Homo sapiens: one gene and its partner. The protein of the gene in region 2 interacts with the protein of the main gene of each other region in a pairwise test. Each region holds a gene or a part of one and is shown on either strand. Other genes may lie near its edges.

Evidence for each region. The genes of interacting proteins can lie anywhere in the genome.
Region 1: the proteins of AMMECR1 (region 2) and ZNF124 interact in binary tests that used the Homo sapiens proteins (3 or more experiments, as listed by UniProt).

The regions. Positions count from the first base shown.
Region 1 is NC_000001.11:247,154,860-247,162,329, forward strand, and holds the end of ZNF124 (zinc finger protein 124), read right to left. Parts: intron 4,955-7,470; coding exon 4,828-4,954; intron 4,208-4,827; coding exon 4,147-4,207; intron 2,545-4,146; coding exon 1,707-2,544; 3' UTR 130-1,706; downstream 1-129. UniProt on the Homo sapiens protein: May be involved in transcriptional regulation.
Region 2 is NC_000023.11:110,195,789-110,203,258, forward strand, and holds part of AMMECR1 (nuclear protein AMMECR1), read right to left. Parts: intron 6,749-7,470; coding exon 6,658-6,748; intron 5,263-6,657; coding exon 5,166-5,262; intron 2,847-5,165; coding exon 2,732-2,846; 3' UTR 1-2,731.

The sequences.
Region 1 (7,470 bases), on a different chromosome or scaffold from region 2:
ATACCATGTTAACAGAATAAATTTGAAAAACCACAAGATCATTCCAATAGATGCACAAAAACCATGAGAAAAACTTCAACAACACTTGACAATGAAATATTCAATAATAATGAACAGCAGGAAACTTTCTCAACCTGCTTTAAGGAATTTATTTTAAAAACCCTCAGCTAACATCATACATGATGATAAGACTGGATGCTTTCTTTCTCAGATTAGACACAAGACACTGTTCGATCACAGGTCTCTCTCCTTAAACCAATGTTACCTATGCAAATAGCCAAAAATAATGACAATGTAAAGAACAACAGATGAAAATAATAATTCACGTGAGAATATACTCTATAATAAACTTTACATACTTACAAATTGACAGCAACTCTATTAGCAAAGAAAATAGACTCATTTATCAATGGCCAATTAATAACAAAATAATTAAACTACACAGAAGTTAAACCTACAAATACATTTCACACATCTACTGTGTAACCCACAAAATTTTTAAAAAATTTTAAAAATATTTTATACTTTAAATATTTAAAAAATATTTTTTAAAATGGCTATGCAAGAAAAAAGGAAAAGAAATACATTTCAATTTACCCATATAACCAACACACTTTAAAATGGGTAGAAAAAGGAAATTTATTTACCAGCTTAAAAAAGAAGAATACATATTTAACTCTTGTACTACTGCTTGAAGAATACTTACAGAAGTCTTGCCTCAGCTGGGCGTGGTGGCTCACGCCTGTAATCCCAGCACTTTGGGAGGCTGAAGCGGGCGGATCACGAGGTCAGGAGATTGAGACCATCCTGGCTAACACGGTGAAACCCCATCTCTACTAAAAATACAAAAAATTAGCTGGGCATGGTGGCAGGCACCTGTAGTCCCAGCTACTCAGGAGGCTGAGGCAGGAGAATGGCGTGAACCTGGGAGGCAGAGCTTACAGTGAACTGAGATTGTGCCACTGCACACCAGCCTGGGCGACAAAGTGAGACTCCATCTCAAAAAAAAAAAAAAAAGTCTCACCTCAATTTTTTTTTTTTCAAAAGAAGTGAAAATCTATATTCTAGAGACTCTCTTCAAAAATGAGCAACCAATATATTCAATTTATTTATAGCTCCTAAAACATCTCATTCACATAGTGAATTTTCTTGAGAATTGTACTATAATTATTTTCCATAAGGTTTTCCATAATATTTACATTTACAGGATTTATTTCCAGTGGGAGTTTTCACATGACCTTTAAAGTAATTGTTAAAATTCAGAATTTTCTGTATTTCTAGGATTTCAATCTGGTGGGCATTCTTTTATTTATAAGGTCAATCTGGAGTATGTGTTACCATGTGTCTCTGAGTGAGTTATAGGATAAATGAAGGCATTCTCACATTCGATACCTTCATAAAGTTTTTCTCTAGAATGAGTTATGTTATACCATCAAATACCACTGGAACAACTGCAGGCCTTACCACATTTTAAACATTCATATGGATTTTCTTCAGTGAGTCCTTTCAAGTTTTCAAAAAGAAATGGAAAAATTGAATGCTTTACCTTATTGCTTATAGTCATAGGGTTTATCTCCAGTTTGATTCGTTTCATGTATTTGAGGAAATCTGGGAAAATTAAGTACTTTCCTACACCTTACATTCACAGTTTCTCTCAAGTATGTGACTGTTCATGTTTTTGACAAAAACTGTAGTGATTAAAGCCTTTACATTTTTTTACATTTATAGGGCTTTTCTCCAGTATGAGTTTTTTTATGCTTCCAAAGGGTACTAGCACGACTAAAGGCTTTGCCACATTTCTGACATTCATAGGGTTTCTCTCCAGTATGAGTCCTTTCATGGTCACGAAGGGAACTGGAACATCTGAAGCCTTTACCACAATTGTTACATACATAGGGTTTCTGTGCAATATGAGTTTTCTCGTGTTTCTGAAGGGAACTGGCGTATCTGAAGGCTTTCCCACATTGCTTACATGGATAGGGTTCTTCACCAGCATGAGCCTTTATATGTCCTTGCAAGGAACTGAGACAACTGAAAGCTTTGCCACATTCCATGCACACATAAGGTTTCTCTCCAGTGTGAGTTCTTTCATGGTAATGAAGGCAATTGGAGTAACGGAAGGCTTTCCCACAGTGCTTACATTCATAGGGTTTCTCTCCAGTATGAGTTCTTTCATGGTCACGAAGGTGACTGGAACGACTGAAGGCTTTCCCACATTGCTTACATTCATAGCGTTTTTCTCCAGTGTGAATCCTTTTATGTCTATTAAGAGAACGGGAAAAACCTAAGGCTTTCCCACATTCCATACATTCATAGGGTTTCTCTCCAGTGTGATTTCTCTGATGTATCTGAAATGAACTGGGAATATTAAAAACTTTCTCACATATTGTACAACCATAATGTCCATTTCCAGTGTGCATTACTGTGTCTCTGTGAACCCTTGTGACAGAAAGGGAAGTTTTCTGACATTGTTTACATGTACATGGCTTCTTTCCGCATTCCTCACACCCATATGGGTTGTTTCCAGAATGAGATATGATGTGCCTATGAAGGGATGAATGACGTATGAAGAATTTTTCACACACAATGCATTCATGTGGTTTTACTCTAGCAGGAATTTTTTTGTTCAGATTAAAATTTGGCATCTGGAGGTTTTTCTACACTGACTTATTTAATTTTACACAGTATGTCTATCATATGACTTCTGCAAAAAATGACAACCCCATCATTAATGGTTTATTAGTTATTTTCTTTTATTACTAAGTCTGAACTTACACTGCTACCAATATCAGAGAAAGTGCAGGTTTTCTAACATAAACAAATTGAACATAAATGGATTGATTAGTCTACAACATGGCTCCCTCCCCTATAGCTATTAACAATACAGTAATATTCTCATATGCAGTTTCTTAGTATTGAATACAGTTTGGGTATTTTCTCCCTTCAAATTTCATGCTGAAATTTGATCCTCATGTTGGAGGTATGACCTGGTGTGAGGTGCTTGGGTCATGGGAGCAGATTCCACATAAGTGGCACTGTTGTGGTAATGAGTGACTTCTCGCTCTATTAGTTCCTGAAAGATCCGATTGTTAAAAAAAAAAAAAAAATGGTCGGGCATGGTGGCTCACGCCTGTAATCCCAGCACTTTGGGAGGCCAAGGTGGGCAGATCACTTGAGGTCAGGAATTCAAGACCAGCCTGGCCAACATGGTGAAATGCTGTCTCTACTAAAAATACAAAAATTAGCTGGGTGTGGTGGCATGTTCCTGTAATCCCAGCTACTTGGGAGACTGAGTCCGGAGAATCACTTGAACCCGGGAGGCGGAGGTTGCAGTGAGCCAAGACTGCACCACTGCACTCCAGTCTGGATACCAGAGAGAGACTCCATCTCAAACAAAACAAAACAAAACAAAAAAACCCCAAAAACTTTGGCACTTCCTTTCTCTCTCTCTTGCTCCTTCTCTCCCCATGTGACATGTCAGCTCCCCTTCCCCTTCTGCCATGACTGGAAGCTCTCTGAGGTCCTCATCAGAAGCAGATGCTGGCTTTATGCTTCTGATAAAGCCTGCAGAACCATTAGCCAAATAAAACTCTTCCTTATAAATTACTCAGCCTAGGTATTCCTTTATAGCAATGCAAGCAGACTAAAACAATACTGTTTTCAAGTGAACTATTTTGCAAACATTTAACATCCATGTTACATTGAAGTATATATTTTTGGTAAAAACTTTGAGAATAAATTGATGTTGTCTTAATTTATTTTGTTTGCTTGGTTTTTTTTTTTCCCCGAGATGGTGTTTTGCTCTTGTTTCCCTGGCTGGAGTGCAATGGCACAACCTCAGCTCATTGCAACCTCCGCCTCCCAGGTTCAAGCAATTCTCCTGCCTCAGCCTCCCAAACAGCAGGGATTACAGGCATGCACCATCACACTGGGCTAATTTTGTATTTTTAGTAGAGACGGGTTTTTGCCGTGTTGGTCAGGCTGGTCTCAAACTCCTGACCTCAGGTGATCCGCCCACCTCAGCATCCCAAAGTGCTGGGATTACAGGTGTGAGCCACCATGCCTGGCCTTGTTTGCTTTAAACATATGATTATATACTACAATTGACCCCAAGGGGGACTGCTTCCTCTTGTGAGGGCAAATTACCTTAGATTTCTTGAAGAATTTTTGTACTGATCTTCAATGCTCTGGTCTTCCCCTTTGTTTCCTAAAATGTAGACCCAGAAATATATTACAAATTATTTGAAATTATAGAAAAATTACTAGACTCTAGGTGCTATGTTGGGGATATGGTTTGTACCCACCAAAATGAATGCTGTAATTTGGTCATCAATATGGCAACATTGTTTGTGTTATGGGTACAGATTCCTTATTAATAGATTAATGTCCTTGCTTGGGAATGCATGTTTTCTCTTACTCTTGCAAGACTGAATTAGTTGCCAGAGGGCAGGTTGTTATAAAAGCAAGTTTAGCTCCCAAGAATTGCTCTTATTTTCTTGCTGTGATCCCTTTGCACATGCCCACTTGCTTCTGCTTCATGCCCTGAGCTGAAGTAGCATCAGGTCCTTACCAGATGCAACCTTGGACTTTCTAGCCACTAGAATCATAAACCAATATAAAACTATTTTTGTAAATTACCCAGGATCAGGTATTCTGTTATCACAATTAAAAAATAGACTAAGAAACAAGAGTCATTGCACACTGGGTCCATGCCTCATTCACTCATCAAAGTGTTCCCTTTGTACATTCCAAATCATGGAATGACATTGAAAACCATGAAACACTTACTTTCTGATTGACTAAGTGAAGAAATATTGTGATTCTTACCTATGGAAGCCAGATTCCTGAAGGTTTCCTGCATCACGTCTCTATAGAGATTCTTCTGGGAAGGATCCAACAAAGCCCACTCCTCCTGGGTGAAGTTCACAGCCACATCCTCAAAGGCAACCGAGTTCTAAAATATTCCACATTTTTGTAGAGGATGGATGAGACTGAAAGCACTGGAAATCTGTAGTCAATTTATAAGATGTTCATCTGATTCTGTGGCGAACATTTATTCTACTATTTGGTCACTAGAACTATGACTCTGTCTACACTTCCTTTCTCCCACATAGCAGTTCTTTTTTTTTTTTTTTTTTTTTTTTTGAGACGGAGTCTCACTCTGTTGCCAGGCTGGAGTGCAGTGGCACCGTCTCAGCTCACTGCAATCTTCGCCTCGCAGGCTCAAGTGATTCTCCTGCCTCTGCCTCTCAAGTAGCTGGGACTACAGGCACATGTCACCACGCCCAGCTAATTTTTGTATTTTTAGTAGAGACAGGATTTCACCATGTTGGCCAGGATGGCCTCGATCTCTTGACCTCGTGATCTGCCTGTCTTGGCCTCCCAAAGTGCTGGGATAACAGGCGTGAGCCACCGCGCTCAGCCAGCAGTTCTTATGCTAAAGTTGAACTGTTCAGCAAGGCAGCAGCAGAGAAGGAACACCCTTCTTGTTGGTGGGTCCAGGGAGTAATATTTGCTGTTATGATTTTTCTTTATAGCATATACCTGCAGTACATATCATATCAAAGTCTTACTATCTGGTGTGCATAAGAGAGTTAATATGAGCCGTCACAAGACTACTTACCCTTAGAAATACCTGCTACAAAGTTCAACCTTTGCTGGTATGAGGGAACTTACATTTTAAGAGGCATCCCAACAACCTAAGTGATAAAAGTAGCTCACTGTTGCTAAATAGTTTATCTAAACAATCTGGTATTTGCTGAACCCCTGTTTTCCTTCCAAAAGTCTATTATTTTGTTTTATTGTAGCAGTGGTGCCTAGGGGGATCAGCCTCAATAAACAAACAAAAACACACTCTGAGCACTGAGTATCTGATGAGCTTCCCTGGTAGATAATATTTCATATATGATGTCACAACTTTTTAATTGGGAAATTGAGCCCAATCCACGTGGTTACACAAAGAGAAAATGTGTAGAAGCTTATAAGTGCTTCACTCAAGCCCAAATTTAATCAAGAGGTAATTAACACTAATAATCAATATTCAATAATCCAAAAATAATTATTTTACAATTTCTACTGAAAAATGTCAAAGCAGAATAGAATAAGTGAAAAGGCATGCGTTCAAAGAAAAAAACTCAATGTCATCTAGATGTCACCTCTTACAAATGATATTTATGTAAAATTTCATAGATGCCTGAAACAGACTTTCTAGCAGTTCAGCAGAAACTACTTTTCAAAACCTACAGAAATAACAAACGCCTAACAACCGTCAAAGTCTTCTGAATAACAGTGTGATGGTTTGCCTAATACACATCAATGATTTTCAAATATAATATTCAGGGCAGTGTAGTATAAGCAGAGAGATAAAGAACTAGGCCAAGAGAAAGGCATATAGTCTTTAATTAGCTGGAATTGATATGGAAAGCTGACTAATAACAGAGGAGGCATTGTAGGATAGTGAAGGAAGTATCAAGCACTTTAAACATGGAACAAAGCTAACCGGTATTTAATTGGGAAAAAAATGAATTGCATTGACCTCTATTAGTTGGACAATAATCAATTTGTCATATATTCAAAAGTAAAAAGTATAAATAGACCACTTGCAGAAGTCACAGACAAGGTTTTTTTTGACATATGAATAGGAGAAAAGGAGCAAACAATAGAGACTGACAAATTCAAATATATTAAAATTAGGAGAATTAAAAGACAAAAAACAGTAAAATAAAAATCTGCAATACATGCAATATAAAAGAAATTAGTGTGCACAGTAAAAATGAATGAAAACATGATTAAAAAATGGGAAAAAAAAGCAAAAGATACATAACAAGAAAAAAGACCATTTATGGAAAGAGATCCATTTTCTTGGTAATAAAACAGCCAAATAATATGGCATATTACTATAATAATAATAGTAAATAATAGTCCACATTCTTTAGAAGAACAAAAATTAGAGAATCTCAAGTGGTGATTACCACACCAAATAAATACGCAGAAATGAAGGCCAAGGCAGTGGATATACTCCATTGCTATTTCCAGTAATTTGAACTTTACCACAATCTACAGTCCAGTAATTTTTCTCTAATGTCCAGAAAATTTATTGTGCATTATCAGAGTTTATATTCAGCATTCTTAAGGAAAAGAAATTCCAACCATGAATTTCCCATCCAGCCAAAAGAAGCTTCATAATCATTTTCAGACAAGCAACTACTAAGAGAATTTGTTCCCACTAGATCTGCCTTATAAGAGTTCCTAAAGGTAGTGCTAAATATGGAAAGATCATTAACAGCCACCACAAAAACACACGTAAGTACATAGACCAGTGACACTATAAAGCAAGCATACAAACAAGTCTGCATAATAACTAGCTAACGACACAATAACAAGATCAAATCTACACATATGAATAGTAACCTTGAATGTAAATGGGCTAAATGCCCCAATTAAAAGGCAAAATGACAAGCTGGATAGAGA
Region 2 (7,470 bases):
TTAACAGCTTTGTATATACGACAAAGGTGAAAGGGTCTAGCATTTGTTTGAAGCACACCATTACAGTTTGTATAACACCCTTTACACTACAAAGTCTTTTAGTCAAAAGCTACTTAGAGACAAAAATGCACTTTGCATTACTTGAATACAAAAGGAGACAAAACTATCCTTTTCCCCCAAGCCATGTTGGGAAATATTGCTGACCTCGTCCTTTGAAGCCTGCAGGATGGTTATTTCTTCAGTTTAACGTTATTACACTGCTAAGAAAATCTGTATAACATCTGCATATATCAAGGATTTTAAAAAATCTGATATGATTTTAGAGTCCGCATGACCAGTCACGTGACCTGCTCAAGATTGATTAGCACCGTTAAATAAACACACATATATGTATGTATGTATGTGTAAGTATATGTACACACACACATCTATGTATGTAATAAATCTTTGCTAAAAAAACTTCTAACCATAAGCTCACCCAGGACGAGGAGCCTGTTGAACCGATGAGATGATGGATAAGATGGATTTCACGATAATATTGGTCTATTTTGTCTCTCTTCAGTTTGCTTGTTTTATTTACCTTTTTTTCCTTTTTTTTGTTTTTTGTTTTGTTTTTTTTTTGTTTGTTTTTTTTTGCAGCAGACAATATCATTCAGCTTGTGCTCAGTTTCCCTATAAGGGTAAGAAAAGTTTCCATCAGGTAGCCACTTGTTTTTATACTGAAAGACTAATCTGCTCCAAAATGCTCCCAAGTAGAAATGACAGGACTCAAAATCCCTTTCTAAAGCCCAACAGCTAACTTTTTCTGACTAATCTCTAGCTTCATTGAAACTGGCTACCAAGATTGCATTTCAGGCTAACAATTGGCTTCTTAGTTAAGGCATCACAACTGAAAATGGTTATTTCAACAATGGATGCTGTGGATGAAGGAATACCAACAAACTTCTAAGAACTCTCATCAAAAACTAAAGCAATTTGCTTTGCCCCAGTGGCAGGCAGAAGGAATTTAGCCCATTATCTCACAAACTAGGAAAGGATTTTTGAATTCTGAACTAGCAGTCTGTCACTTGTCACAGTAACTATATGTATAAGCTGTATCATTTTGATATTCAGTGACTTTTTTGTAGTTTTAGAATATATATTCTGCAGCATACTTTAATTCATCACTTGATATGTTGGCTTCCTATTTGAAAAAATTATATATATTTTTCCAAAGACACACAGACACACACACATAACCATAAAATGAAGGTCATCTTCCTCCAGAATAATCTGTCATTTTTCCTGGGGATATATGTATGGACCTCCTATCGACATCAGTAAGTTATCTTTGTATGCATCATGGGAAGACTATACTTGCAGATGAGCTGGGCTCTAACTATAGCATATCTGAATGCCAACTCCATTTTCACAGGTGTGACATAACATCTTATCAATGTAGTAAATGTGTTTCTATCAAAAGTATGTAGTGCAGAAAGAAATTCAAGCTATTTTATAGTATCTCTAAAACTCTAATATTGTCCCCATGACAAACATATCTGAAATCATGGCAAATATGAACTTTTGTTTTACTAAATTATCTTTACCATATCTTTAGATGGTAGCTAAAATGGATTCTAGCCAATCATGACTTATTGAAACCTAGAGCTAACAAATTTAAATTAATATAAAATAGACAAATGTCTCTTATTGGTTATTTGCTCAAAATAATTTTTTTTCAGCTTAAAAAAATACTTAAGAGTAAGGAATTTGTCTAATCTTCTGTTTCACATATAGAAACAATAAAGTTTTACAAGAATATTTTTCTAAATTGCCTTTTTTCTAACCCCTCTTAATTCCACTTAATTATATTCTTCTCAAAGGCACTAAATTCTGTATCTGCTCTCTTCCTAATATTTGCTGCTCATAAAATGTTTCCTGTAGCCTTTTTGAAAGGTAGTTTGTACCTTCTCCAAACAGTGTTTTAGTTTGCAAATTGGTTCTATAAAGTGGTGAGGCAGTCTCTTCTATGATAACCAGCACAATAGGGATAAATGATTTCTCTCTCTCTGTGACAAGCCCTATCACGGACCTTTGAATGCTCACTACTAGAACTAAAGTTCATGTATTTTCACCATGGGAAAAACATATACTTAAGGAGTGAAGACCCAACTACTAGGCTGTCATAGCAAAGTGAATTTCAGACAAAAATCAAGAGTAATATACAAATACCTGAATTTGATATGAATTAATCCCAAACTCAGGTATCAAAAAACAACTATCTTACTGAGGAAAACTAAAGACGAACCTAAGTAAAATCCCTAAAAACTGCACACTTTCTTCCATCCACAGTCAAAGGAAGGGAGGCAGGGAAGGAAGAAGGAAAACGGGAAGGAAGAAGGAAAACAGGAAGCAAAACGGGAAGAAAGGCAAGGAGGACAGAAAAACAGAAACCTGACTGAGACAGCAAAGCAAAATTCTACATAATATTATAAGGAAAAAAAAACCCAAAATTATATATGCTGCAAAAAAAAAATCAACGATCTAAAATAATAAAACAGGATCTTAACAAATGCCATTTTTCTACCCGTTACCATGATGATCTTAGTTGACGATGTCGAAGCTTCACCATGGCAACGGAAACTATCATCATAAAATGGTACAGTAAAAGAGATAGCTAGACCAAGAAGGTGTAGGGTCTCCTGGGAAGAGGTCTGCAGAGAGGCCCAGTGACTGGTTGTGCGGCTCAGTGTCAGGAATAATGGTTGTATGGCGGAAGGGGATGCCCAATGCCATTTTGGAAATGATGATGCTGGCGATGAGCAAGGTATTCAGCATAGCTCAGGGTCATCTTTTCACTACGATACCTGAAAGAAAGTCAGGGAAGAGAAAAGTTAACATTGAGAAGTAGGTGACATGCCATTGTCACTGCTAGGAAGGACCTTAAAGATAATTTTATAGATCAGGAAACGGGGTCCCAGAGAGAAGCAGTGACTGCCCAAGGTCACAGAGATAGTAAGTAGCAAAGCTAAGATCAGAACTTGGAAATCAAAAGTCTGAGTCCAGTGCTCTTTGCACTCTACTACTCCTTGTTTAAATTGTTCTTTTAAAAATTTTATTGTCCCCTCAGCCCCAGTTTTCTAACAGGAGTATGCATCTCATTCGATTCAGTTGATTATTTTTCTTCAGAAATCTTCCACCTCTCCCTCTTTTACTGTTCCTTTCTCTGTCCACACATCTACTTAGGTCTTACCATTAAGTAACAACAACAAAAACAACTTTTCTTAATTCTGGTATCCTGAACTCTCACTTTTCCCCATGTCTGGCTTTCTTTTCATTGCCACATTTCTCAAATAGTTGTGTGTATTTTCTGCCTTCAATCCCCATCTCACACTACTACTCAGCTCAGTGCTCCTTGGCTTCTGCTGCCACCCTTCCATGGAAATAGCCATCAGAAGGCTTCCCCTGACTCAGCTTGATCTTTCCATTTGCCCATCATGCCCTTAAGCTCTCTGGTGCTAAGGATTCTATACCTCCACATGCCCCTGGTTCTCCCCTGCCTCTCAGATTGCTCCTTGTCTCTGAATGCTCCTATCCCTGCCTTGTAGAATTTTGTTATGTTTCTGTATTCAGTTATTTTGACTCTATACTGTCCCCCCACAGTGAACCCTATCCTTACAATTTCAATCATATCTAGCCATGAGCTCATACATTTTCATTGACCTACTAGATATTTCTATATAGATATCCTAAGAAGCACCTCAAATCCAAAATCGATGCATAAACTTAACACACTCCTCTTGTGGTCCCTACTTTGATTAAAGGGATTACCTTGGTCCCTTTTATCTAGATTAACGCCTTGACTTTCTTCTTTATTTCTAAATGATGACCCAGTCCTTTCATTTCTTCCACATTATTTTCATATCGATCCCAACCTTTCTTCCCATCTCACTGCCACAGCTCTAGTTAAGGCCCCTGTTGCACCTCTTTTGGACTGCTGCCACAGATTCTTAGATAATACCAACGCTTCCTGGCTCATTTTCCTGTTTCCAATTCCATTCTTATACCTCCCCAAGCCCATCTGATTAAAATCCTTCAATAGCTACCAATTGCCTATAGAACCAGGTCCAAACTAATTACTCTGGAACTCAGGACCCTCAATGGTCTGCCCAACCTACCTTCTGGGCCATATTTTCCTCTAATGATCAGCTTCTCTATTACACTAAAAGACCAGCCCAATCAGACTATTTCATATTCTCAGAACTTGCTTTGTACTTCACCACCCTTGACTCACAAGGTCTTCCTTAAGGGAATCACTTTCCTCCTGTCAAAAAAAAATCCCTTTTTACCTGTCAAATATTCTATCCATTCTTCAAACCCAGCCCCCAGCTGACCTCTTTGAAACTATCTGTTATCCCCCTCCCACCCTCTTAGAATTCCTCTTTCCCTACTTTATGGGAATGGATCTCATATTATCCATCATATTCTGCCTTAGATTAATAATTTTGTCCATGCCCCTTCTATTCTCCTCCACTGTGAACTCAGGGAGAGCAGAGATGGAGGTATTTCTGAATTTGTAACTCCTCAGAGCTGAGAATAGGCCATTTTTAGACTATAAGCATTCAATGTAGTTTTATGGAATTGAAATAAATGGAACCAGCAGCCCATTTTCCTAAAATGTACGGTATTTTCCTTTTTAAATAAGCATCCCTATTTTTTCATGCTGAAATTTATTTAGCATTTGAGTTTAGCTCAATTGTGTTTTTCAGCAAGCTAACAAGTTTTCTTGGTAGACTTCTATCACTGCCAAAATTCTGAGATTAAATTCGAATTTGAGGACTGTTTATCAGAATCCTGGGGTTCTGCTCAGTAATGTCAAAAGCTAGCCAATTGCTAATTCAAGTACTTTCTCCAATAAAGTAGTCTAAAATCTCCAAGGGCTTGCTCGTACAAAAGCCAGAGTAATCACACAGAGCTAAAGATGGGAAAGATAGGCTCATACATCACACAGGCTTTACTACGAAGCAGAGTTCCATTGTATCCACCCTCAGTATGACCCTGCCATTCATTTCCACTCTGTTTCAGAAAAAAGAAGTGTAGTTAGAGAGACCAAAGAAATCAAAGGGTTATAGGCATACACATCAAAATGTACAGGTTAGCCTTGTGCTAGAAAATGTCTTCTGTACCTGGTCAGTTTTATGGTTTTCCTGAATTCATTAGTAATCGGAGCTTTGTATCCTCCTTTCCTCAATAAGGAGTCTATGGTCTGTATATGGTCCCATCCTGTAGAGAGATGACCAGATAAAATATCAGTCAAGCACATGTAACAAACACCTTTCATTAAATACAAAATGACTTTGTAGAGGTCAGCTATCACTGTCACCAAATGCCATCAAATCTTTTGGTCCTAAAAACAATCACACAGAAAAGCTAAGATTTCATCCTTTACAAAAGCAGGGTCATCACCACACTCCTTAAATTCTAGCTATCCACAATGCCAAACAACACTGGCTCCTTTATCTTCGCATTCGAAGTCAAGGGGTCTAAGGGGCTGGCAGAAATTGCTCAGTCATGACTGTAACAAACCATATCTGTTGTACTTTCCTCTAACAGTGACATCTTTAAAAGGGAGTGAAAAGCCTATATGCCATTTTGCCAAGTCAATATTTAGGACTCCCACACCACCTCACAGTAATTGTTGTTCCTTATGGTATCTTCTGTAATTCTGTAATCATTCAAGTTTGTGTGCAGTATTCAAGGGTATTTTGATTAGTTCTGACATGGATGGTATACTAGTATCTGAGGCCCTCTATCTTTTATGTATGCTTTACAAAGTTAATGATACTAGGAGATTAAGACATTTTCTAAAGCAACCCAAATAAATCTTCAAGTAACTGCCTTGAAGACTTTCTGATCTGGGGATTTAATGGCATTAATTTTGCTATTATGTATCTCACATTTATAAGACAAACACGGGAAAACCAAATTACAAATGCTTTCTGATGAGAAGAAAAGCTCCCCAAGATAAAAGATTCATTTCGACCAACATGAAACCAGAATTTAGTAGTTGCTAAGAAAGGATAAAATACTACAGAGTGAAAAGTTACTTTGTGTTACAATGTTGGTTCATACAGGTCTATGCTCTATGTGTGAAACAGGAAAATTCTGATTAGGAAGTGTAGACCAAGCATATAAAACACTAACACTTCATGTTTTCGCAATCCTCTGATCTTAGTGGGAAACCTAGAATCTTAGTATCAGCAGGATGAGTAATGGCAACCACCTAAGAATGAAACATTTGATACTTAAAATGACAAAGAACTATGTGGCTGATTGTCAAACAAAAGGCTTGTTTATGCCACAATGGAATATGGGAAAAATGCATTTCAAATCGGTAGCAAATTGTTGCCTAAAATGAAAACCAACTAATATAAATTCTGCTTTTTAAAAAATATACACTTATGGGTTTATGCCATCAAACTTCAATGCAGGGATTCAACTTCTGTGAGTACTTCACCGACTTGATACAGACATTGCAGTGGCAGTGATGGAAGAGTCACTTCTTATAATTTGACACTTCAATTATTAGACATAACTGCAAGGTCAGATAACGCATTTCAGTTTGTATATTTGTTTAAATTCTTCACCAGATCATATGAAATAAAGTACAACAATGACCTTGCTCCTTTGCAACCTCCGGTAGGTAGGTGGCGGTGCGTTTTGATCCTTTTTCATTGATGAATTCTATTCTAATGCCATGTACACCCACCTGAAAGAAATTGGCAGTTTTATTAGTACAGTCTTCTTCATAGAATCAGAAAGAAAAGGTTATAATTTAACTTTCAAGAGAATGCAGTTCTTCCTTTCCCTTTGTTTTTAGAAGGACGTATAAGTTTTCTCTTTCCAAAGCTTTGACTTTGGATTTGAAGGCCATTATGATGGCCACGGAGAGGGAAAATATTGATTTGCATGTGCCCAACATGCACTAGGCTATGATACTATGTTTGGAAAACTGGAACAACTATTCTGAAGCTGTCTGTAGAATAAGACGGTTGATGGCAAAAATCCTGCCCCACTCCCAAATTGTAGCTCATGCCAATAAAGAACTAGAGACAAAGGTGACTGACTTCAAAGAGATAGCAAACAACCATCCTGTTTTGCAGGTACACTCACCACTTCTGATTAAGTTCCAAAATTTTTGGTGCTGATCCCCTCCCAAACTGTCTACTCCGTTTAAAACATTAAATTATACGTAGGCAAGCAAACACAGTCAGGTAAGATTGAAAATTAATAATGAAAACAACCAGATCCTACATCATCACCCAGTGTAGACAGCATTTCTTTAAAAATGCATTATGACTTAGAGTGGGGTAGTAGCAGACCTTCACTGTCCATCTACACCATTGTCTTCACACAGCTCTACTAAATTTAAGAATAAAGATTTCAAATCACTTCACTGTAGTGCATTATTGCAGTCTCTTTATATACTAG